4 linked regions of the Homo sapiens genome follow. The protein of the gene in region 3 purifies or fractionates together with the protein of the main gene of each other region. This does not show direct contact. Each region holds a gene or a part of one and is shown on either strand. Other genes may lie near its edges. The genes, in order: NAP1L1, UBE2O, EPB41L5 and VANGL1.

What was found.
Region 1: the proteins of EPB41L5 (region 3) and NAP1L1 purify together in Homo sapiens (affinity purification with mass spectrometry; 3 studies listed by BioGRID and IntAct, with this or other methods). This does not show direct contact.
Region 2: the proteins of EPB41L5 (region 3) and UBE2O purify together in Homo sapiens (affinity purification with mass spectrometry; 4 studies listed by BioGRID and IntAct, with this or other methods). This does not show direct contact.
Region 4: the proteins of EPB41L5 (region 3) and VANGL1 purify together in Homo sapiens (co-immunoprecipitation; 3 studies listed by BioGRID and IntAct, with this or other methods). This does not show direct contact.

What each region holds. Positions count from the first base shown.
Region 1 is NC_000012.12:76,074,655-76,081,694, forward strand, and holds part of NAP1L1 (nucleosome assembly protein 1-like 1), read right to left. Parts: intron 1-7,040. UniProt on the Homo sapiens protein: Histone chaperone that plays a role in the nuclear import of H2A-H2B and nucleosome assembly.
Region 2 is NC_000017.11:76,401,113-76,408,152, forward strand, and holds part of UBE2O ((E3-independent) E2 ubiquitin-conjugating enzyme), read right to left. Parts: intron 4,461-7,040; coding exon 4,401-4,460; intron 4,205-4,400; coding exon 4,094-4,204; intron 1,588-4,093; coding exon 1,490-1,587; intron 1,016-1,489; coding exon 952-1,015; intron 43-951; coding exon 1-42. UniProt on the Homo sapiens protein: E2/E3 hybrid ubiquitin-protein ligase that displays both E2 and E3 ligase activities and mediates monoubiquitination of target proteins. Negatively regulates TRAF6-mediated NF-kappa-B activation independently of its E2 activity.
Region 3 is NC_000002.12:120,177,064-120,179,646, reverse strand, and holds the end of EPB41L5 (band 4.1-like protein 5), read right to left. Parts: 3' UTR 528-2,583; downstream 1-527. UniProt on the Homo sapiens protein: Plays a role in the formation and organization of tight junctions during the establishment of polarity in epithelial cells.
Region 4 is NC_000001.11:115,644,956-115,651,995, reverse strand, and holds part of VANGL1 (vang-like protein 1), read right to left. Parts: intron 720-7,040; 5' UTR 583-719; coding exon 512-582; intron 1-511.

The sequences.
Region 1 (7,040 bases), on a different chromosome or scaffold from region 3:
ATTTATCCATTTCGTATTTAGCAATATTCATTTTATGTAATTCATGTTTAAGAAAACCAAAATCTGATGCCTACTGTACTCACTATGCCCTCTGGATATCTTTTTAAAAGACTTAATCCCTGGATCAAATAGCCATTTAGACTATTTCAAAAGCTCTAGGTCCCAATCTTAATGTTAGGTAAGCCTTCCCTATCTCTCCAAATGTACATGTACCTCATGTTAGATAACTGACAACCACCAACCTCCAGCTTCCCCTAGATATGCTAGGGACATTGTCAAGACTTGTGGTTACCAGACCTGAGTAAGTTTACTGTTAAGACTCACCAGAGGATATCCTAAGTTCCTTCTCACTAAAAGATTAGTATGAACCTGGAGAATACTGCTTTTGGAAAAACAAATCTTAAAGCAGATGTGTTATATCCAGGCAGAAAAAAATGGTAGAATGCCACAGGTAATCTACAGATTACCAAAAAAAACTAAACCAAGTTTAGATAGAATCCATGTTAAAATCAAGTTTATCTTAGCCAGGCACAGTGGCACGAGCCTGTAATCCCAGCTGCCCAAGAGCCTGTAATCCCAGCTGCCCAAGAGACAGGAAGATCTTTTGAGCACAGGAGTTCAAGGCCTGCCTGGGAAATACAGCAAGACCCTGTCTCTAAAAAAATTATGAATAAATAGAATCAAGTTATCTGGTAAAAATTAAAATCTTAATACATATTTAATTCACAAAATCCTGCATGTGTTTACTTTCATAGCAACGTATTATGCCTATGAACAAAGAGTTAAAAATGGAAAACATCCTGATTTTAGCAGTTAAGTGCTAATATTTGGGGGAAACATTATTACTGACCTAGTATCTATCCTTTAGAGTAATTATAAAGAAAATTATTCTTCCTAATGTATCTAACTCTGTAAATATTTTGTATTTGTTATAAATAATTCCTAATAGTACTGATGAATTTTTCTAGTGATGCTGGGTAATGAGTCAGCATTTACAAAGTGTTTAGCAATTATGAATATTAATCAAAAATAAGAAAAATACTGAACTCTGACATCAAAGAAATCCAAGTAGGATTCCAGTTTGTCTACCACATCATCAATAACTTCTTTTTAATACAGGGAAACCTGTAGTGCACATGCATCCTTATTTCCAGCTAGTGTTCCCGTATCTTTTCTGGAGAGCAACCTGACAATAGGAATATCAAAAGCCTTAAACATGTCCATCTCAGCCAGGCACCATGGCTCACACCTGCAATCCCAGCACTTTGGGAGGCCGAAGCAGAAGGACCGCTTGAGGCCAGGAGTTCAAGACAAGCCTTGGCAACACAATGAGACACTGTCTCTTAAAAACATAAAAATTAAAAAAACAAAATATGTCCATCTCCAGATTTATTCACTTATGAGCTCTACCATGAAAAAATTATAAAGAATCTAATGCCTTTGCTTTCCATGTTCACCTAGAAGGTTCTTCCACAGCTCTGAACAAGTCCTGCACATCCTTTGGCTCTCATTTCAAAGTTTCACTCCCCAGAGATGCTTTCTCCAACCTGCACATTCCGGTTAAGTAAGATTTCTTGGTTGTACACACACTCCTATAAAGCTTTCTTTTCTTTCCACCATAAGATGTCTCAGTCTGTAATTATAAATTAGTTTGACCTATGGTCTGTCTCTCCCAACTGACAAAATTCATGATTACAGGAATTAAATCTGATCTTGACAATCATAGCGTTGTCTTCTTTGGGGTAGCACACAAAGCTTATTATAAACTTAGTACTATAATGGAATATGCAAAAATGGAATGCTTTGCAGTCACAAATGAAACAGATCTGAGTTGATATGAAGGAACACTAAAGCAAGGTATAGGATGTATGCCGAAATCCCCTTTGGATATGGAAATATATATATATATATATATATATATATATATATATATATATATCTCCACTCATATACGCACATACTTTAATACAAATAAACCCTTTCTGAAAACAAACACCAAAAACCTAACCAGAGTAACCTAATGAGAAAGAAGGGACTGGGGGTAATGAGAACTAATTTCCCATTCACCATTACAGTCATGTGTGGATTATATGTTCTGAGAAATGTGTCTCTGGGTGATTGTATTGTTGTTCAAACATCAGAGTATACTTACACAAACCTAGATGGTATAGCCTACTACGCACCTAGGCTATGATATAGACTATTGCTCCCAGGCTACACACCTATACAGCATGTGACTGTATTGAATACCATAGGCAACTTTAATATAATGGCTAAGTATTTATGTGGTGCATGACTGCATTTGGTTTTCCAACACACAGATTTATATAATAATTTCCAATACACAAATTTATTCTGAGATTTGCTAGGTTTAATATATAGTGTCTACTAAACCCAGCAATTGTCAAAAACAGAAACAAAACCTAAAACTTCCAAATTTAAATTTTTGTAACATTTTAATGTGTTCACAGAATGGCTACACTGCTAACCTCAATGTCCATTTGCAGCATTACATTTACAGTTTAAATTCTTAAAATGAAACTTTAGTAAAGAGGATCCAAGACAGAACATTTACAGAACATTAACAGGAGGCATTTACTCCTCCAGAGAAGGCTGCTCTAACCTGCCCATTCTGGCTACATTGTATTTCTTGGTTGTAAGATAGACCTAATTTTCTAGTCAGTTGTAGTCAGATCATTTGGGCTGACATCAACTTTGTAGCAATCTACAAACTAAGACAAACAACTTCTGGCTCTATTTCATCATCTATATAAAGCAGAAAAACATCTGAGGAAGTGGGACCCAAAAATCTGCATTCTAAACAAGAAACTCAGCTTCTGAGAGGTGGTTCTCAGGTAGACCACATTGAGAAACACAAGTTTAGGTTAATACCTGTATTAATATTTTACTGCAGTTGACATTAAATAAAATCAGTGAGAATCTTATTTGTTATACATTAAATTGCATTCCAAGATCTCTGTGAAAAACTTTCATTCCTGAAAGCGACAAACTAGATTATGCAGATCAATTCTACCAATGAAAAATATGGCCGGACGCAGTGGCTCACGCCTGTAATCCTAGCACTTTGAAAGTCCAAGGCAGGCGAATTGCCTGAGCTTAGGAGTTAGAGACCAGCCTGGGCAAAATGGTGAAACCCAGTCTCTACTAAAATACAAAAAATTAGCCGGGCGTGGTTGCACACACCTGTAGTCCCAGCTACTCAGGAGGCTGAGGCAGGAGAATTGCTTGAACCCAGAGGAGGAGGCTGCAGTGAGCCGAGATCACACCGCTGCACTCCAGCTTGGGTAAGAGCAAGACCCTGTCTCAAAAAAAAAAAAAAAAAAAAAGGAAAAGAATTAAAAGTACAGATGTTTTTTAACAAAAACATTTTGTTAAAAATCTTAAAAGCACTGAAATGCTAACAAGATAGTAAGGAATCACCAGCCCAAAACTGAGGGCAAAACAGGAGCAGAAGGAAGGCACTTTTGCACTGAGGTCAACTGCCAATTATCAGCAACGTGAACTTTGGTTTTAACCAAAGTTAAAATTCTGGGCCTGTCCACGGTGGCTATCTTTATGGTAACCCTCCCAAATTAAGCAGGAACCCCAAAATGCTATATCCTCAAGAATAAATTCATTCTCCTGGACAAACAGCCCAAATTTACCTCATCTGTATTGCCCTCCAAACCCCAAGCTATGTACTTAAAATGATCTGTCCCTGGTATATTCAGACACCTGTATATCAAAATTAAATGAAAGCTTCCTTCTAGACCTTAAAAAATTCATACAAGTAATTTTCACAGCCAACAGGAAAAACAGAAAATATAACAGAAATCAATCCTACACAAAGACTTAAAAATTGTCAGACTATAAACAAATACATACCTACAGACATAGTAAGCCTGGTTGTCTTTGATCTAAGTTTGAAAACACACTGTCTGCAAGGAAGTCATCTATTAAAGGTGATATAACAAAATTTGGAAAACTAGAACTTCTAGAAATAAAACTAATGAATCAAACTAAATGGGCTGGCTTAAGAGTAAGATACACAGCTGAAGAGAGAATTAAGTGAGCTGAAATGAAGCCTAGAAGAAAACTTTGAAAATATGGCAGAGCCACAGAATCTAAAGGACTGAAAATACTGAAATGAAAAGACATGTTAAGATCCAATGAAGCCTAATAAAGACTTCATACAAGTTCTGGGAGCAGGAGGACAGAATATTTGAAGAAGTTAATACGCAATAATTTTCCATTTCCTTAAGTGATGAAAGACACCAATCCACAGATTCAAGTAGCCCTACAAATCAAAACCATAAAATAAAGAATCCATATATATATATACACACACACACACACACATATATTTATCCAGCTCCGGATACATCAGTAAAAAGGCAAGATAGCAAAAACAAATTCATCTCAAAAGCACACACAAAAAAGGTAGATTAACTTCAAAGGCACAAAAAGACTGACAGCTGTCTTCTCTTCAATAAGACACTAAAAGACAACAGAATCCTCAATATGTTGAAAATAACTAAGGCTCTTAAAATACTATCCCCAACCAAAACATCTTTTAAGAATGAAGGTGAGGCCATGTGCGGTAGCTCACGTCTATAGTCTCAGCACTTTGGAAGGCTGGGGCAGGAGGATCGCTTGAGGCCAGGAGTTCAAGGCCAGCCTGGGCAACACAGATCATCTCTACAAAAAATTAACATGCCTGCTGTAGTCCTAGCTACTCGGGAGACTGAGGCAGGAAGATCACTTGAACCCAGGAGTTTGAGGTTACAGTGAGCTATGATCGTGCCACTGCACTTCAACATACCTCCTTAAAAAAAAATCTGTAATGTAAAAGACAGTTTCAGAATAAAACACTAATCAGAGTTGGTATCACGTATTAATGTCAGGAAAAAATAGACTTCAAGGAAAAACATTAAGATAAAAAGGTCACTTTATAATAAAAGGTTCATACATATATGGTGTGTATAAGATCTCAAAAGACATAACTGACCCTAAAAACATGCTTGAAGGCATTTTTTTTTTTTTTTTGGAGACAAGGCTTTGCTCTATTGCCCAGGCTATAGTGCAGTGGCGTGATCACAGCTCACTGCAGCCTTGACCTCACAGGCTCAAGTGATCCTCTCACCTCAGCCTCCTGAGTAGCTGGGACTACAGGTATGCATTCTCCACCACACTCAGCTATATTGTTTTAATTTTTTTTGTAAAGACAGGGTGTCTCACTATGTCGCCTAGACTGGTCTGGAAATTCTGGGCTCCCGCCTTGGCCTCACAAAGTGCTGTGATTGATTACAGGTGTGAGCCACCACACCTGGCCTCCTGAAAGGAAATCTTCCTTCCTAAACTGAACTAAAAACAAAATCTTCCACTGAAGAGGGGAGGCAACTGACTGAACTAATTGGATACATAGAGCTGACATAAGGCTAAGAAACCATTACCCAACTGCAGTCACATAACGTTTCAGTCAACACAGGACTGCATATACAACAGTGATCCCACAAGATTATAATGGAGCTGAAACATTCCTATTGCCTAGTAATGTCACAGCTCAATTCATTATTCATGTTTGTGGTGATGCTGGTATAAACAAACCTACTGCAGAGTCATATAAAAGTATGGCACTTACAATTATTTACAGTACATAATACTTGATAAGGACAATAAATGATTTATTGGTTTATGTATTTACTATACTATGCTTTTTGTGGTTAGAGTACACTCCAACTTATTTTTAAAAAAGTTAAAACTGCCTACAGTATTCAACATAGCAACATGCTATACAGGTTTGTAGCCTAGGAACAACAAACAGGCTATACCATATAACCCAGGTATGTACTAGGCCGTACCATCTAGGTTTGTGTAAATACATTCTATGACATTCACAAAAGGATGAAATGGCTTAATGATGCATTTCCCCCAGAACACATCCCCATCATTAACCATGCATGACTGTGTATGTAAACAAATTCTATGCTGGAAGAAGACTTCATGACCATAACTGCTATACAGCTTTTCCCTAGAGCACAGTGGGATACAAGGTGGAGTGCTTTTGAATTTCATGCTGCTATGGTTTGAGTATTTGTCCCCTCTAAAACTCAAGTTGAAATTTAATCCCCTATGTGGCAGCACTGAGAGATGGGGGTCTTTAAGAAGTGATTGGATCATGAGGGCTCCACCCTCACAAACGAATTAATCCATTCATGGATTAATGTATTTCTTTATAAATTACCCAGTTTCCCACCAGGGGAGCTGGAGAGCCAAGCTACCCAGTTAGCACACTCAGCCCCCTCCCCATGTGATACCCTGTACTGCCTTGGGAACCTTCAGAGTCTCCACAAGTAAGGTTCTCACCACATGGGTCCCCTCGATCTTGGATTTCTCAGCCTCTATAACTGCAAGAAATAAATTCTTTTTTTTTAAATAAATTACTCAGTTTCAGGTATTCTAAGCAACAGAAAATGAACTAATATTCATGCTGATTTATAGCAGAACAGTGTAAGTCAACATTCTTTCAAAACCAGGATAAAAATTATCTCATCATAAGTTATCACTGCTCACGTACGTAACCACGGACGGGTTATCTAACCACTCCACACCTATTTTTTTTCCTTGTTAAAATGTTGATGCTACCTGTCTCTAAGTAAATTAAATGAGCTAATAATACACACAGAATTTAAAACAATGCCTGAATAATCAATCAGTGTTGCCTATTACATTATTTATCCCTGTTATGCTCTTCTGTACCCTCTTTAGAAAATAATTCCAAGACTGAAATTATAACTCTAGACAGGTGTGGTGGCTCACACCCATACACTCAGCACTTTGGGAGGCCAAGGCAAAATCGCTTGAGGTGAGGCATTTAAGACCAGCCAGGGCAACACAGCAAGAGCCTGTCTCCACAAGGAAAAAATATATATAACCCTGTTTCCCAATAAAAATTAAAATGTACAAAACTTCTGAATAAGTAAAAATATATACAAATATGCAGGAAGTAAAAGGCAGAGTTGGTAACCAAAGGTATAGAA
Region 2 (7,040 bases), on a different chromosome or scaffold from region 3:
CTGGCCTGGGTAGAAGCCATAGGAATCATCGAAGAAGAGACCCTGCGGGATGTGGGGCCAAAGGAAAGTCCCCGTGAGCGGTGTCTCCATGGGTGACCATGCTCTCCACGCCTGTGCCCGCTGGCTGCCCACCTGCAGAAGCCCACTCACACACACGCCCCACACGCCCTAAAACAAGTCCTGTGGCTCCACATCAGCACTTCCCAAACCCTGGGTCCGCAGAGGTCATCTGGCGCCCTTGTTCAAACATAGGTGATGCATTCCATGCTCCTTGGTCAAGGGCTCATACTCTGAGGAATAAGACTCCAGAGAGCAGTGGTCCTGAAACCTGTTTGCTCACGCACCCCCTGTATATCTACTTGTTTGCTGTGTGTGTCCATGTACTATTGTAACTAACACATCATCCTGTACTGAGAGAGACAAAGTGGAACCTTAAAGGATGAGAAAAAAAAGCTACCAAAAATGCAAATAAAAGTTCTAATACTGCCGGGCGCGGTGGCTCACGCCTGTAATCCCAGCACTTTGGGAGGCTGTGGGCAGATCACCCGAGGTCAAGAGTTCGAGACCAGCCTGGCCAACATGGTGAAACCTCATCTCCACTAAAAATACAAAAATTAGACGGGTGTGGTGGCACACGCCTGTAATCCCAGCTACTCGGGAGGCTGAGGCCAAAGAATCACTTGAACCCGGGAGGTGGAGGTTGCAGTGAGCCGAGATCGCACCGTTGCACTCCAGCCTGGGCGACAGTGAGACTCTGTCTCAAAAAAAAAAAAAAAAAAAAAAGTTCTAATACTTTCTGCCTATACCCAAACTTTTAGACCCTCTGGCGCGCACCCGCCCCTTTTCTAGGAAACCGCTCTGTTTAGCTGGGTCCAGGTCTTTGCTACGAAGTCCTCCTTCCAGAGGACTGAGCAATCAGAGAAGGGTGCTGGCCTGGATGGAGCACACTACCGAGTCGCTGACGTGCGGGCAGACGTCGTAGAGCTTGGCGCCATCTTCCGTGTTCATGGAGCACCTAAAACAGAGAACAGAGGTTTGGTCTCCACCAGGGGACACAGTGAGTACCAAAAAGTTGCGATTCTGAGATGCCAATGCGCCCACATGCCCTAAATAGCACAATTCGTCTTCTACCATCAACTCAGCCCGAGGTAGTACAAGAAACTCTCCCACAACGAACAAGACCCCAAGTGCCACTGGAGTGCTTGCTCAGCACCATCACAGTGCCTCAAGTAAAGCATCAGCCTCTAGCAGATATCCTCAGTGAAAACGTTTCTCCCCATGCCAGGACAGATCAGAAACTGAGCAACAGAAATAGGCCACGGCAGATAAGGAGAACGGTACAGGGTTAGGCCCTGGATGCCTGCAACATCTGTCACTGCCCTTGATCAAACCTGTCATCACTGTCCCCAGGAGGAAACACCCTCCTCCTCCCCTCTTTCCAAGAGGCTATCCTTCCCAAGCCGATGGCTCTCTGGTGGTGAGACTCTACCTGGCGCCGTTGGATAGCTTCAGGATGATCTGGTTCTTCAAGTCGTAGACCTTCCCCAGCCAGCAGTCATAGGCAATGTAGTCCCCATACATGAAGGGCTGCAGACCAAGGAGGCAGGGGCAGTGAGACACAGCAGACAACGTTCATGTCCAGGGCACAGATTCCTCTATGCCCCACCGAAGACAGGATGGGGGAGGATCTAGACAGCTCACTGACTGGACCGGTTGGCTACTAGCCCTAAACAGCTGCTGCAGCAGGCCCTCCCTACAAGTTCTAGGCTGCATCCCAGCTGCTCTTCCCAGTGAGGAGGAAGTGGTGGTGGTGGTGGGGCTGCCTGGAGGGAACGGGGTGGGTGATGCAGGGGCAGAGAGGCCTGATGGCATCCATGGACATGGGACATCCATGGACACAGGACACCTGGCAAAGTAGGCTGTGGAGGTGGCAGGCAGAGGAGGCAGCCACACCACTGGGGGGTGGCTACATGGACAGTGCTCTGAGTAAATACGTTAACACATCAAGGATATCGAGAGCCAAGTCCCTCATTGTTGGAGAAGGTGCCCAGGTGTTTACTAACAGAAAGGGAGCAGGAAGGAGAAGAAGGAAGAGGAGTCTGAGGTGTTTAGGTGGAAGTGGATCTATCAGGATGAACTCATATATTTTATTTTACTTTATTATTATTTTTTTTAGAGACAGGGTCTTGCTCTATTGCCCAGGCTGGAGTGCAATGGTGTGATCTTGGCTTAATGCAACCTCCATCTTTGGGCTCAAGCGACTCTCCCACCTCAGTCTTCTGAGTAGCTGGGACTACAGGCATGCATCACCGTGCCTGGCCAATTTTTTCATATATTTTGGTTGAGATGGGGTTTCGCCATGTTGCCCAAGCTGGTCTTAAACTCTTGAGCTCAAGTGATCCATCTGCCTCAGCCTCTCAAAGTGTTGGGATTACAGGGGTGAGCCACTGCGCCCGTGAACTCTGCCTGAACTCATATATTTTAATATACACATAGAGCAGGTAGTGACATATTTAGATGTGTGTATACATATAATACATATGTATTTCCTAGTGTGTCCCAAAAGAGCCAAGTAGCAATTAGCACACCTAGCATCCAGATCTTGGGTTTTAAAAATACCATTCTCTGAAAACAATGAGGCTTCTTGGAGAAATGGTTGATTCTGGGGCTGGATCACAAAAAGTACAAGATGAGCCTGGCACATCTCATGCCAGAAAGAAAGAAAGTTCTTAAAAAACCAACAAAAAGGGCCATGTGAGAAGGACATGAAAGCCAGCTTGAAGGGGTTCCCACTGGCTAAATCTGGGACCATCCAAGCAACAGAACAGATAATAGTAGTAATTAATTATAACCAATGAATAAAACAGAAATCTCTAAGTCCATACTGATAAAAAAAAAGAATACATAAATAGGGCAGAAGATAAAGCTCTTCTACAGAGCAGAATGCCAGCTAAAAGAAATGAGGGGAACAAGGGAGTCATAGAACCACCATTTAGCAACATCAGAGCAATGGCTGGCGCAGGGGGAACTGTGAATGGAGGCCAAAGCTGGTGGATTTCAGTTTGACAAATGACAGGTTATAGACATAATCTGGGACTACGTTCCCACAAAATACAATCACTTAAAGGGGGTAAATGGTGAGTTTATGGTGGAGAGACCTGGTGGACACCAACATGACCAGGGGTAAAAGTGAACAACCCCAGCACTTTGGCTATGGGGTACCATGAACCAGGGCAGAGCTCTGCGGCGGGCCTGCCAAGAACACGTGGGCATGAGGCAACACCAGGAAGACCCAGGCTGAGGGTCAAATTACTGAATGTATCACTGTTCAGGGCATGGAAGACAAAGAAAGGCTGGGAAGCGATTCCAGATTGGAGAGAAAATGAAGAGATGACAACTCAATGCAAGATGTGTTCCTGAATTGGGTCCTGGATCCGCAAAGAAGAAAAGAGTAGTGTTGGGACAACTGCATGTGGTCTGTGGACTGGACAGTAATTATCAACGTTGATTTCCCAATCTGGGGGTTATATGGTGGTTGCACAGGAGGCTGTCCTCATTTTTGGAAAACACACAAGAGGTGTGTGTATTCCGGGGTGGGTGACAGGGCATCACATCTATAGCTTGCTGTCAAATGTTTTGGGAAGAAAAAAGACCGGAGGGGGATCTCGGGGAAAAGGAGGGAGGGAAGGTGATGGAGCAAACGAAGTGAAATCTTAACAGCTGAGGAACCTGGATGGAGGGACACAGGAATTTACAACTTTTGGTAAGTTTGAAATCATTAAAAAAATAAACTATTTCCAATAATTTATTTTTTTAAAGAAATGTTAGAGGAGAAAGGAAAAACACTTAAAGATAACCACACTGGCAGCCTATGCTGGGGTTGGGGAAGGGCACGTCCTGACCTCATGTCTAAATGGCTTACTTGAAAGCAGCGAAAACAAGGCTACAGGAGCCAGCTGGCTGCTGTGCTCCGCCTTCTGACCCAGGAAGGCTGTGCTTGGCAAGAGCACGGAGGAGGCTGTAGCCCAGAGGTCGTGCCGCCGAGAGAACCAGAGGGCCCAGAAAGGATGATGAGAAGACAGGGCCGGCTCACCCAGATGTGCTGCAGGTCCTTGCTGTTGACGGGATAGATGATGCAGTTGGTGCCGATGAGCTTGACGGCACAGTCGATGTTGACGTCGATCACCGTGCCACACTGACTGTCCTGGGGGAGGGAGGAGACATGCAAGTCCCGTGGTGCAGCAGCCCTGGTCACCAGGGGAGACCCAGCCCAGGCAACCCCAGCGCACCCCCTGCAGAGCTGGCCAGTTCTCCCACATGCAGAGTGCGAGGTGGGCAGGCTCAAGTCCCTAAGGTGGCTGCCCCCAGGCCCGGGGCTGGGGTGGGGACGCAGGACTCACGGTGGATCGCATGTGCCGGACCACATCTCGGGGCACCACAGAACGGTCCTCTAGTTTCAGCTGTAAAAGAAAATACAGGTGTGAGAGAATGGACTCTGAAGCCACCACAGAATACAGTTTTCTTCCAGCTTCTGAAGGAAAGCGTCACATCCACACTGCTAAGTGCACAAATCCTAAGCGTTTGGCTAGCAGTATCTTCACAGACCGCACACACCTCCGACCAGCACCCAGACCCACAGGCAGAGCGCGTCACGCCCACAGGCCTCCTGGGGCCCCTGTGGTCACTGTCTCACCCACCAGAGGCACTTGGCTTGCCGGAGGTAGCCTTCCTCACACTGAACAGTGCAGCTCAATGACAGATCACATAAGGCTGCACTTTAATGAAGGATTTAACAGCCCATTCTACAGAGAGCAAAACATTTGCTTTGCGTTCAATCTTTTTTCTGCCCTCTGCAAGTGCCTGCCCTAGCTGATCAGTGCTGAGGGAGAGTGGGCTGGGGGAGAAGCAGGACACTGGGCTGCGGTGGGTCACCCTGAAGCCTGGCTATCACCGGACACCATGTTCTAATCTGGGTTATCCTCCTGACCAGCTGCGGCCTGCACCTTATCTGCTGCGCTTGGAGCCCTGCAGGCTGCTAAGTAACCCTCAGGATGGTTGGCTCTTGGAGCCCGGCCAACTGCACGAGCACCTGATTGTCTCTTTACGCACAGCTGGCAGCGGCCACTGCCTCCTGCTGCTCCATCGCCCAAAAGCCCAGGCACGTGATGCTCCCACCAGGCCAGCCTGCGTCTTTTTTAGCTGGTTCCTCAAACCTGGGGCAGCTCCTCTATGGTTCTTCACTGGGTCATAATCATGGATGGGTCTCTGTGTGTGTCCACCTCCGAGACCCCAAACCACATGGCTGGAGAGCTGTTTCCTCAAATAGCCAACCAGACACTCCTCCGTGGTGGCCTCTCTTGACCTGGGGGCACTGAGAGGTCACCACCAAGAAAGGAGAACTGAGTCGCCGAAAAAGGAAGATACTGGCTCAAGGTCACTTAAATGCTGGCAATGACAACTAAAACAAACTCTGCTAGTAGAAGAACGTGACTCACAAAAAAAAAAAGGAAAGAAAAGCAATGAACCCCACCACCAACCAGCAGTGCAGAGAGTCCCATGGGAACTCATGAGCCCAAGTTGTTTTTTTTTTTTTTTTTTTTTTTTTGAGATGGAGTCTCGCTGTGTTGCCCAAACTGGAGTGCAATGGCGCAGTCTCGGCTCGCTGCAACCTTCGCCTCCCAGGTTCAAGCAATTCTCCCGTCTCAGCCTCCCGAGTAGGTGGGACTGCAGGCACGTGCCACCACGCCCGGCTAATTTTTGTATTTTTAGTAGAGATGGGGCTTCACCATGTTGGCCAGGCTGGTCTCGAACTCCTGACCTCGTGATCTGCCCACCTCAGCCTCCCAAAGTGCTGGGATTACAGGCGTGAGCCACTGCATCCAGGTATGAGCCTGTTTCAAATGACAACTTGCCCAGTCCTTAAACGCAGGGTTCTTGAGTCAGACACAGGAACGTCAGGCAAACCACTCCTGCCGACATGTGGAAGGAGAGATGATGGCAGCTGTCTCAGCATGGCTGAGGTGGAGTCACCAAGGCAGCGGACCGCAGGTGGCACATGGTGCACGGTACAGAGTAGGTGCTCAGCAAGGTCGGCAGCTGTGATCACTGGCCCTGTGAGCTGCAGGGTGAAGACCCCTGAAAGGTCAGGCTCTCCTTATCTCTGCTCCAAGACCCCAGGAGGCTGGAGAGGCATGCTGGCGTGACGGTGCCACTTTTCTAAATCAAAGAATATTCTGTGCCTGTAACCCTCTGTGCCCAAATCTCCACTCTGAGATACGGCATTTTTTTGTGCTGCCCCACCCTATCTTAATCCCCTGCTCCCATTTTAGACTTCAAAAAGCCACAATTGCTCCCAGAGAAGCCAGAAGCGGCAGGACAGGAGAATCCAATGCAAGGGGGGCTGCACCATGTGTGGCAGGAGGGCTGCCTCCACCACTTGGGGGTCCCTGAGAGAGCAGCCAGGAAAGGAGGAGAGAAGAACGCAGACACAGACCTAAATCAGTGCCGTCACTGATGAAACACCCTGTTCAGCCTAACAGCACCCTTGGGAGTGCAGGGGAAACCGAGGTGTCAACTCTGAGGCTGAAGCAGAAAAAAACAGCTGGTGAAAGCTGGCATCATGGCAAGGCCAGAGGCTGGCAGGGCAGGCAGTGCCCAGTGCTCCCAGGAGAGGGAGGCTGGCAGCAAATGCCATTCTTCCCGTGGGGTCTCCAGACAACAGCAGCTCCACCTCACCAGGATGCTGCCTCCAGGGGCTCTTCTGACCTTTCTATGACAAGGAGTTACATTTCTCCAAAGACCTGATGGTGCTGGGAGCAGAGTGGGAGCGACAAGGGGCTGGGGGATGGTAACATGGTGGCTACACTCCCTTCCACTGGGAATTAGAACCCAAGACAACGGCATGTGGAAGGACTTAGGATGACTTGGGAGGCTCTTGTGACTTTCCTTCCTAACTTCCTATACCCCACCCATACTGGGCACTGGCTTTCTCCAAATAAGCCCATACCCTCCCATCTGTGAGCCACTCCACTGAACAGTTA
Region 3 (2,583 bases):
CCAACTTTTCTCAGCTTTGCCAACACCCATATGGTGCAGTATGACTCTGCCCAGCAGAAGTCCTGAAACCAACCCAGGTGGCACTGTTCCTCGCTGGATGGTGCAGTGCAAACCCAGAGAAGGCTGGGGACTGGTGGGCGCCAAGAGAAGGAGAAGTCAACACCTGCATACTCTACCACACGCTGTGACACACACTTCATGTGCCATTTCAGACAAAAAACCTGAGGTATTAAGCAGTAGAGCCCAGATCCGATGTCCAAAGCTGTGGTGATACTGCACCATGCTGTCCTTGGAATGACCACCGTGCCTTCCAGGATATGCTGGGGATGACCAATGAGGTTTTCAACCTTTGAAAATGCCCCTACTCCCAAATTTACACCACAAAAACATGGAAATCAACCTAAAAACAGTGCGGCTGCTTCTGCTCACTTCCTCAGGTTTGTACCAACAGTGGATCTGGTCTAACTCTGTTGAGGTCAGCATGTAGGAATCACAGTTCCAAGAAACAGAAACAGTGCACAAAAACATGAATGTCTCACGAAGGTTTATTTGAATAGAGTTACATCTAGAGTTCTCATTTCAGTGTACAAACAACTCAGTGCAGTGTTTCTAATACAAGTCATATAAAACTGGAACACACTAAATGAATAGTGCACTTGATAGAAAAATAAATTACACTTTAAATGCTACTGCAAAGTTTTACACATATAAAAGGTAAACACAAAATAGTTAGTGAGACCCTCATAACCACTTATCATATCCAGATAAGGAGATAAAAGGGGCAAAGGAATCTGTGCTATAAAAAAAAATCTCTCTGAAGAGGAGAAATCCTGACAAGTAACTGAATGATCATCTCAAGCAATGTGGTGACATAGGGACTTACAGATCGTATCTCTTAGAACTGGGAAGGAATCATAGCTCTACCAATGTGTTAACACAACCCAGTTCAGCTCAGGGCAAATTTCTATAATTCAAACAAATGTCCTCATACTAACGCCTAATATGTAGGAAAAGTTTCCAACTTTCTTCTGACCACTGAAGAGGTACAGTGTTTAAATTTTTGAGAGGATAAAAAGGACAAATAATCTAGAAATGTGTCTTCTTCAGTCTGCAGAAGACCCCAGGTCTCCAAGCAACCACATGGTCAAGGGCATGAATAATTAAAAGTTGGTGGGAACTCACAAAGACCCTCAGAGCTGAGACACCCACAACAGTGGGAGCTCACAAAGACCCTCAGAGCTGAGACACCCACAACAGTGGGAGCTCACAAAGACCCTCAGAGCTGAGACACCCACAACAGCACCTCGTTCAGCTGCCACATGTGTGAATAAGGATGCAATGTCCAGAAGTGTTGGCTGCCTCCAAGTGACAGGTAACACTGCAGAACCTATCTGAGGACCTGCCAGCCTCCCGTTTCACGCAGCCACTCTGCTGCTCTACAAAGTTTCACATCAGGGGTCAGCGGCTTTGTAAAGGGGACTCCGCAGGAACACAGCTGTGCTGGGGCTGCTGCTGCTGTACTGCGCCAGCAGAGCTGAGTGGGACAGTATTTACCATCTCTGGTCCTTTACAGAACAAGACTGCTGACTCCTCTCAATGACAAGACAAAAACTCTGCTTCTCGAGACTCTTACTTAGAAAAATAGCAGATTTTTCTCTCTGTGACTGATAAATAATTCTGCTAACAAGACTTCTGAAGGAAATCTTCATTTTGGGGCTTAGCTAAGAGAAGAAGAGGTGCAAGTTTTAGCCAGAAGTGAGAAGCATAAGATAACAAGTAGTCCAGATCCAAGAACCCAAGAACAACTCAGGGCTTTCATCCTTAAATCTCCATAGGATATCTGTGATTGTACAAAGGCAAAGGCTAGAGACAAATGTTAGGAGACTATAAGAAATATTTTTAAAAGTTTTTTCTTAAAACAATGTATAAATGTTAAGGAAGTAAGCACACAAGGAACAGAATCATTCCTCTGTTCAGCAGTGTCTCCTGAAGAGTAGGAATGAAATGACCATGACCTCCTGTGTGTCAAAAGATGATGCTACTGACATGTCACAAATTAGGTCTCACTGATTAATTTACAAGTTCTCAGGCAAAGTCTAGAGCAGGTAACTGAAACCTTCACGTCTTATTTTAAACCATCCTGTCAACTCCCACTTCCCCTATCAGGGCTATGAAATGGACTGAGTTGAGGTTCCTCTCCTGTCTGCCCGCAGGGAGGCAGCACTATCTGCTCCCCGCCACCCCACCGTGCTCCGTCCGAGGCGTGCACGGCAAACCCTCAGCAGTGCCCCCGGCTGCCCCTTCTCCAACCTCAGCCCAGTCTCACCAGCCTGCTTCTCACCCACTATCATCTCCAACCTTTCTCTTTGAACCCATCAAGGATGCCGGCACACATGCCTCTCTCTTCTCAAGAGACAGACATCTCCCCTTCCCTACCTGCCACATTCGTAGACCACCTCAGCCCTGCCTCTCCCCACCACACTGTTCTCAGGGGAGCAGAACAGGAAGAGCTGTTACAGCAGCTCTGCGCATGGCAGCAGCAGCAGCTATGACAGGAAACCAATCCCCAACACGCATTTAATC
Region 4 (7,040 bases), on a different chromosome or scaffold from region 3:
CGGATCACAAGGTCAGATCGAGACCATCCTGGCCAACAAGGTGAAACCCCGTCTCTACTAAAAATACAAAAATTAGCCAGGCGTGGTGGTGGGCGCCTGTAGTCTCAGCTACTCGGGAGGCTGAGGCAGGAGAGTGGCGTGAACCCACAAGGCGGAGCTTGCAGTGAGCCGAGATGGCACCACTGCATTCCAGCCTGGGTGACAGAACGAGACTCCGTCTCAAAAAAAAAAAAAGAAATACCTAGAAATGAAAAACATTTCCACTGCAGGAAGAAACTTTAATTTAAAACCAATTGTGAGAAACTAAAGTCATCAACTCTAATGGTGGCTATAAAATGTAAACTGGTGACGTAGTTACTCCCAAGAATGTTAAATGCTCTTAAAGCTCAGCTTCTCATGCACCAACCGACCAAATGTCCAGCGCTGAGTCACTGAAAAGTGAGTGTAGAGAACCCCACCAACCTGTAGGTTTCCCCAAAAGGAAAAGTGTAATAATGAACAACTTACATACCCTTGTCTGTGAGATTTTTTCGAATGACTTGAATAGTAAGAATATCCAGAATAAGTGGATTCGGTATCCATAGCAATGGAGGGCTTGCGCTTGAGGAAGGAGCAGGTACTGTTTCTCCTTAGAGGTAGAAAATTTCACCTACCAGACTCCTAAAACCTCAAGGAGTCTGGAAATTAGAAGAGGAGCCACTCTTCAACAGGAACAAATTCTGGGAAAGAGGGGGAAAAAAAAAGACATTAATCTTCAGAGCCAACCTTAATGGGGCTGAAAGATAAATGACAAAGCCACACCTCCTCTCTGGGGTCTCTATCATGGAACAAGCGAGTGAGGGTGAAGCAACTGAACTGTAAATGCTCCACCCATGCAGCAACCAGTTTTCCCAGGTGTCTGGGAGGGAGACAGGATAGGCGCTGAGCAAGCTGAACCCCTACCACAGCAGCAGGAAAATGGGAGGCACTTGTCCACGTCCTCAGGATGACCTGACCCCTGCTCACTGGCTTTAGGAGGTGGCTTTCCACATCTGCGACCCTCCACACAATGCCCAGCCCCCCACTGCCAGTTTGCTGGTTAAAAAAACAATACCCAGCGAAGTTGCTTTTAAGGGATTTGGTCATAATTTCCAAAAGTCAATTAAAAAAAAAAAAGATCTTCAATCTTTTTGATCTAGGATCCGAATTTCTGGGAATTTATCTGAGGGAACTGATTTCTTTTTTAAAGAAAAATTATTGTGGTCTCATTGTCTATAAATAATAAAATGCTAGAAACAATCTGAATGCCCCCAGAATACAGGAATAGGTAAGGAAAACATGGTTCATCCACCAGAAAAGTATCACATATGTTTAAAATGATCATTATAAAGAATAGAAACTCTTATAATGATGAATTTTAAAAGCAGGATACAGTATTGTTGATACACAGTGAACCAACATTACAGTTACAATTGTATAAAATTGCTTATGTAAGGACAAAGATTTTTAAAAGGAGACACAGAAAATGAAAGCAGGCAATTTATTATTTGCAGGCTCCTGGGTCTTCTCCCACATTTTCATTAGATATTGCTTTGCAATAAAAATAAATTGGAAACATTTCCAAGTACATTCCTGAGCTCCCACATGCTAAAATTTTTACTTCTAGAAAACCGAGATCCACAAGTTCTGTCTCTTTCTGCACCCCTCACCCCAGAGCTAGTCTCAGCTCAACAGGGTTCCTTCTTCCAGCCGCTGGAAGCTGAAACTGCAAACACAGCCAGTGAGATAAGTGTGAAGAAAAAACAAAGGAGCTGTAAATGCCATACCCTAACCCTCCTGGGAGGAGGCCAAGTTTCCCTGACCCCAGCAACAACACATAAGTCTGGAGGGAATCAGGTCAGCACAAATTGCCATACACCACCAATACAGCCCCCACAGCCTCTAATCCCAGTTAGGGTGTATTTACCCTTACCATTCATTCTTCCTGGGAGTCAGGTACGATCACTTCCAAGGTCTGCCACCCAGGGCCAGCCTCCTTTGTCCCTGATGCCCTGACTTACCATTTCACTTCTCCTCTGCCATCAGGAGCCCAAGGCTAGCCCTGGGGAAACCTGAGTTCTAGTCTGAGCCCAGCCACTGTTTAGTACAACCTGGGATAAGCCACTTGCTTTCTTATGCCTCAGTTTCCTCATCTGTTAAACAGGGTAAACCAACCAGCCACCGACCTCACAGGTAGATCTGAAAATATAAGCAGACACAGTTTCCAAAGGTGGGTTCCAATCTCGGGTTTTACTCACTTATTAGCTATCAGGCCCCAGTCAAAATTAGTAAACCTCTTTGAACATGTAACTGTAAAATGCAAATATCAGGGTTGCCGTGAAGACCAAATGAGCTAACAACTATGAAGGCACCCAGCGCGAGCTCCAGATGTGCTAGGTAAACGAAAGTCACTGTCTATCAGCACTCTCTTTGCGGGTTCCGAAATGCTTGTTCCTCTGTCTTTTTAATGAGAGAAATGCTTGGAAAGAAGCAGAGCAGAGTCTCTGTGCCGGCCTTCCTGCCACAAGGCTCACCTGCAGTCAGACAGAACGGAGCACACATCTCAGTCCGCTGCCTACTAACTAGCTGTACACCTGGGCAAAGCAGTTTCTCCTTGGAGCCTCAGAGACTTCCCAATCCATAAAAAGGAAGCAAGGCAGCCTATTATGGTGGGGGTTTGTGGGGGGAGGTAGCTGTAAAGATTAAATGTGAAAACACAGCAGGCCTTTTTTAAATGCTAAGTTTTGCTCCTGGACTTACCCTACTTTCCTAGAAGACTTCAAGGGCTGAGTCATCTTTTTTTCTGCCTACTGTCTCCACCATTTTCACTAGCAATTTCAATCAGCTTTCAACACCTCAGTCTCACTTCCTTTCTGCCCTGGGCTTTGCTGTTTTCTCACCTGCTTCATAACAGGCAGACGTCAACATTAGGATGTGCTTCGAAGATCTCCAGCCCTGAGTGAACTGAGATCCTCCCTGAAAGCCCCTCACCCAGCCTCTGCTGATCTGCAGATTCAAATGTCCAGTTCCCTGGCCCAGAACACCGATTTCCCACTCTCTTCTAGATTCATAATTAACCCTTCACAACTCCTACACTCTGCCTTGCAACCCATAACTCTGGATTCCCCATTCCATCCCAACTTCCAGCTACTTTTTGCTAAATGCTGCTGGAGTGTCTCAGAGGCAGGTGGCCCAGGCCCCGCAGATGTGGGCAGATCCAGCTTGGTGCTTCCTAGCTGTGACATCAGGGGGCAAATGTTTGCCTCTCTGAGCTTATCCAACCCTGCCCCATAAAAATGAGGTCATTTAATACTCTCTCTTCCCAGGGTTCTTGTGAGGATTAAATGAAACTGCAAAGGTAAAGTCTCTGGCACATGGTAACCCAAGTTTTATTCCCTTCCCCCTCTGCCAGAGGACTTCATTCCTTGTCCTCATTGAAAACTTGTGGCCATTCATTAAGACAACTCCAGGCTTGTCCCTCAAAGGAAACCATGGGTCCCAACTGCCCTCCAGGGAAAGGCTTTATCTAACTCTACCAACCACCCTAGTCTGGTTTCCCTCCCATGGTTCCTTCCTGTACTTACCAAAGGAGTGGTCTATACATGCTGTCACTCCCTCCTTCTCCACTTTCAGTCCAAATCTCCATCCACAACACTCCACTGAAACAACTCAAAGTTGGCCAAGGATTGCTATGAGCCAAGTAACATCCTTGTCCTCCTCCCCCAGTGCTTTTTATTTCATTTATTAGTCCATCCACCTCCATATTAAGTGGCACCTACAAGACCATGCTAGGCAATGCTAGGGCACAGCAATGACAAAGGCATGCTGCCTGCCCTAGCAGAGTTTCTCTGCAGCTGGCTAGCCTCCAATTTGATGCCGCTTATGTTACTACTTCTCCTCTAACACTCCCTCTCCTCTCCCCTCATCACGTTATCCCTTGACATTCAAAACTCTTCTCAGTCTTCTCCATCCACAGATTTCCTATGGCAGAAGCTCCTTGAACACAGCAACTACGTCTTACCTCCACCCAGGATATTTTGAACATAGCAGGTACCCAACAAATACTTACTGAAAGACTAAATCCCAAGTGCACATTTCCTACTGAGATTCCTCTTGCTCCCCTTGGGAATACCATCATCCCTCTCATAGGTGCTCTCCAGTATCCTGTCCTGTTCTTCCCAATTCCTCAGCTAAAGCAATACCCTCATCCTAAGGATCTAACCCTGTGCCACCTTCAACACCCTCTCTGATCCTCCCTTCACTCTACTGATTCACAGCCACCCACTTCCTCCAGGCTCCACCTACACAGGGCTAGACCACTACAAAGCCTCCAGGTGTCCTCACCAGCCTATACACAGCTCAGGCCCCTTCTAAGTCATACCGTTTCTAATAGTTACCAACTCTTATCCTATCCAAGATCTGAGTGAGGACTAAGAGGATGCAATAAGAGGCAAACTAATAAAATCCGAAGTGAACTTATTTTAAAAGAGTCTGAGCCAAGGTAAGAACTTCAACAGACTTAATGGAAAAGGATATCCTGAAGCTTACCACTGCAATGATATATCTATGAGATAGTTCCCTTGCATACACAAGAAATTAACCAAACTCATGATAAGGTCAGAAGGAATCCCTTATCAGAAAAGACAATAAAGCAATGAAAAGGAATCAGGTTCCCAGGGTAATACACTGATAGGCTGTCACAGCAGCATGAATAGGACAGTCATATAAAGGTGGGAATATGGCTCCTAGAACCTGGAACTGTCTATCATACTGACCCCTGACATGACTCATATTGTGTTTGGCCCAGGCTGGGCAGCAGCCAGAGTGACCTTTTAAATTACAATGCAGACGTCACTTCCCTGTTTAAAACCTTTCCGTGGTGTCCCACTGCACTTTAAATAAAATACAAAAATCTTTCATTTGGTATGCAATGTCCTGCCCGACGCTCTAGCTCCCTCCTCCTTCTCTAGCCCCAGCTCCTTTAAGGTAGAGTCTTAGGGCTTTGGCAGAGCCCAGTATATCTGTTGGTACTCACCCTTTACATGCCCTGTTTTGCCAAATTCCTACTCATCACTCCTTAATTTAAATACTGCTCCTTTCAAGAGGCCTTTCCTGATCCTTCAATCTCAGTCAGGCTCTTCTCTAGTACCCTGTACTCTTCCTTTCTATCCAACTTCCAGTGATACATTTGTTTGTGTGATCACTTATTGTCTAGTTTCTTCACAGGCTGTAAGCTCCATGAGGGCAGAGGCACTTTCATGACTGCCTGTCTTTCCAGCTCCTAGGACATTATGGGTACCCTATAAATGTCTGCTGAATGAAGGGTTTTGTGGCAGATCTTAGGACATGAGGCCATAGATTCATTGTGGAAGAAACTTTAGAAATTATCTATTTTAAATCCTTAGTTTTAGAGGTGGCAAAAAAAAAGATGCAGATATTAGATAGAGGCGTGATACCAGAACTATCAAAAAAAAAAAAAAAAAAGCTATACTACTGGCTCGCATGGCAGTCCCACTCAGGGGCAGAGTTCGTATGCCAGACACACTGAGTAAAAATCAGCAGCAGCCTCTTTCAGCCACTGCCCAAGAGCATCTTGCCTCACCGGTCACCCACCCCTTAAGAGTGTATTGCTTGGCACTGCTTGGGTAGGGGCTGGAGGCAAATATTAGGACACGGCCAGGCTCATTGAACCACATTGCATGCAGGCAAGGTCAACAATGGGAGATAGGTGCACAGAGTGCTTCTAAGTGGCAGTGTCCTAAATTCTGGACTTCCTAGGCAAAAATGTCAGAAAGAACCTCCTTCACCACCCTTTATCAAAAGCAAAATGAAGATAATCAGCCTCAAACAGAATTCTCTCCTAAAGTCATGTTCACTCATATAAAAATCCTACTACTTAATATGAAAACACAGTGTTTAGCAAATCGTATGAAGGAAATAATATGTTATGATAATGACAGTGGTAAACATAAGCTAACCTTCGCAAAAAGGAAATTATAAAAACATCAACAGCTCTGCCTAGAGCTATTAAGTAATTAAGGGAGCTCTGGTTTGGAAAGTTACTTTGTAAGGGTTACAGAGACACGCACTGAATTTAAAGAGAGATTTTGCTTCCTATGCAGTAAGTAGATCTATTTCCAAGGAAAAGTGGTGTCTGGTACAACCATGCTTATATATGCTGTGTATATTATTCTGAATATTTGATTTTTACATAGAATTCTGCAGAGATTATGCTATTAATTATTATTTATATTATGTCTTGAAGCTAACATTCTTCTTAGGGGTACCCATTCTTAATTAAATGGCACTCAAGGGGAAAGTGACAATTGAAATAATTTTGTTTAGAGTCAACTATTCTTCTAGAGAGTAGCAATGAGCCCAAATTGTGGGTGAAGAGCATTCAAATCCTGGCTCTAGTACTTAGCTGTGTGACCTCAGAACAAGTTACTTAACTGCTCTCTGCCTCAGTTTCCCTAACTGTAACAACAGATTTTATTTTACTTATATTATAGATCTGTGGTAGGTATTAAATGAGATAATTCATAAAAATTATTAGAACAGTGCCTAGCACGTGGTAGGCACTCACAGCTGTCAACTACTACTAGTATTCACTAGAGTAAAATTCCTTCAGTTAGGAAGAACTGAAGGGGTTGTATGGCATATAACTTCTGTATCATTTTCACTGAACTTATACACATTTTTCTGGTCTCTGCTACCACCTTTAACTGCTACTATTAGCTATAGCTGAGTAACAAGTGATTTCTATTCTGTTTCTTACAGGCCTCTATTTACCATCCCCAGGTTGGAAGCAAATGTCAGAGAGACCAGAGGAAACCGTGTGTGTTTTAGTGGGTTTATTTGGAGGGGCATGGGCTGGAAAGGAGCGGGCAGAGATGCAGGGCAAATCTATAAAACATTTTGAACTTGTGGCCTATAAACCACCAAACATCATGCAGGTCACTGATGTGAGGATCTGCTGGGCTTATGGCATTTGTGACAAACCCAATGATTCTTTTATTACA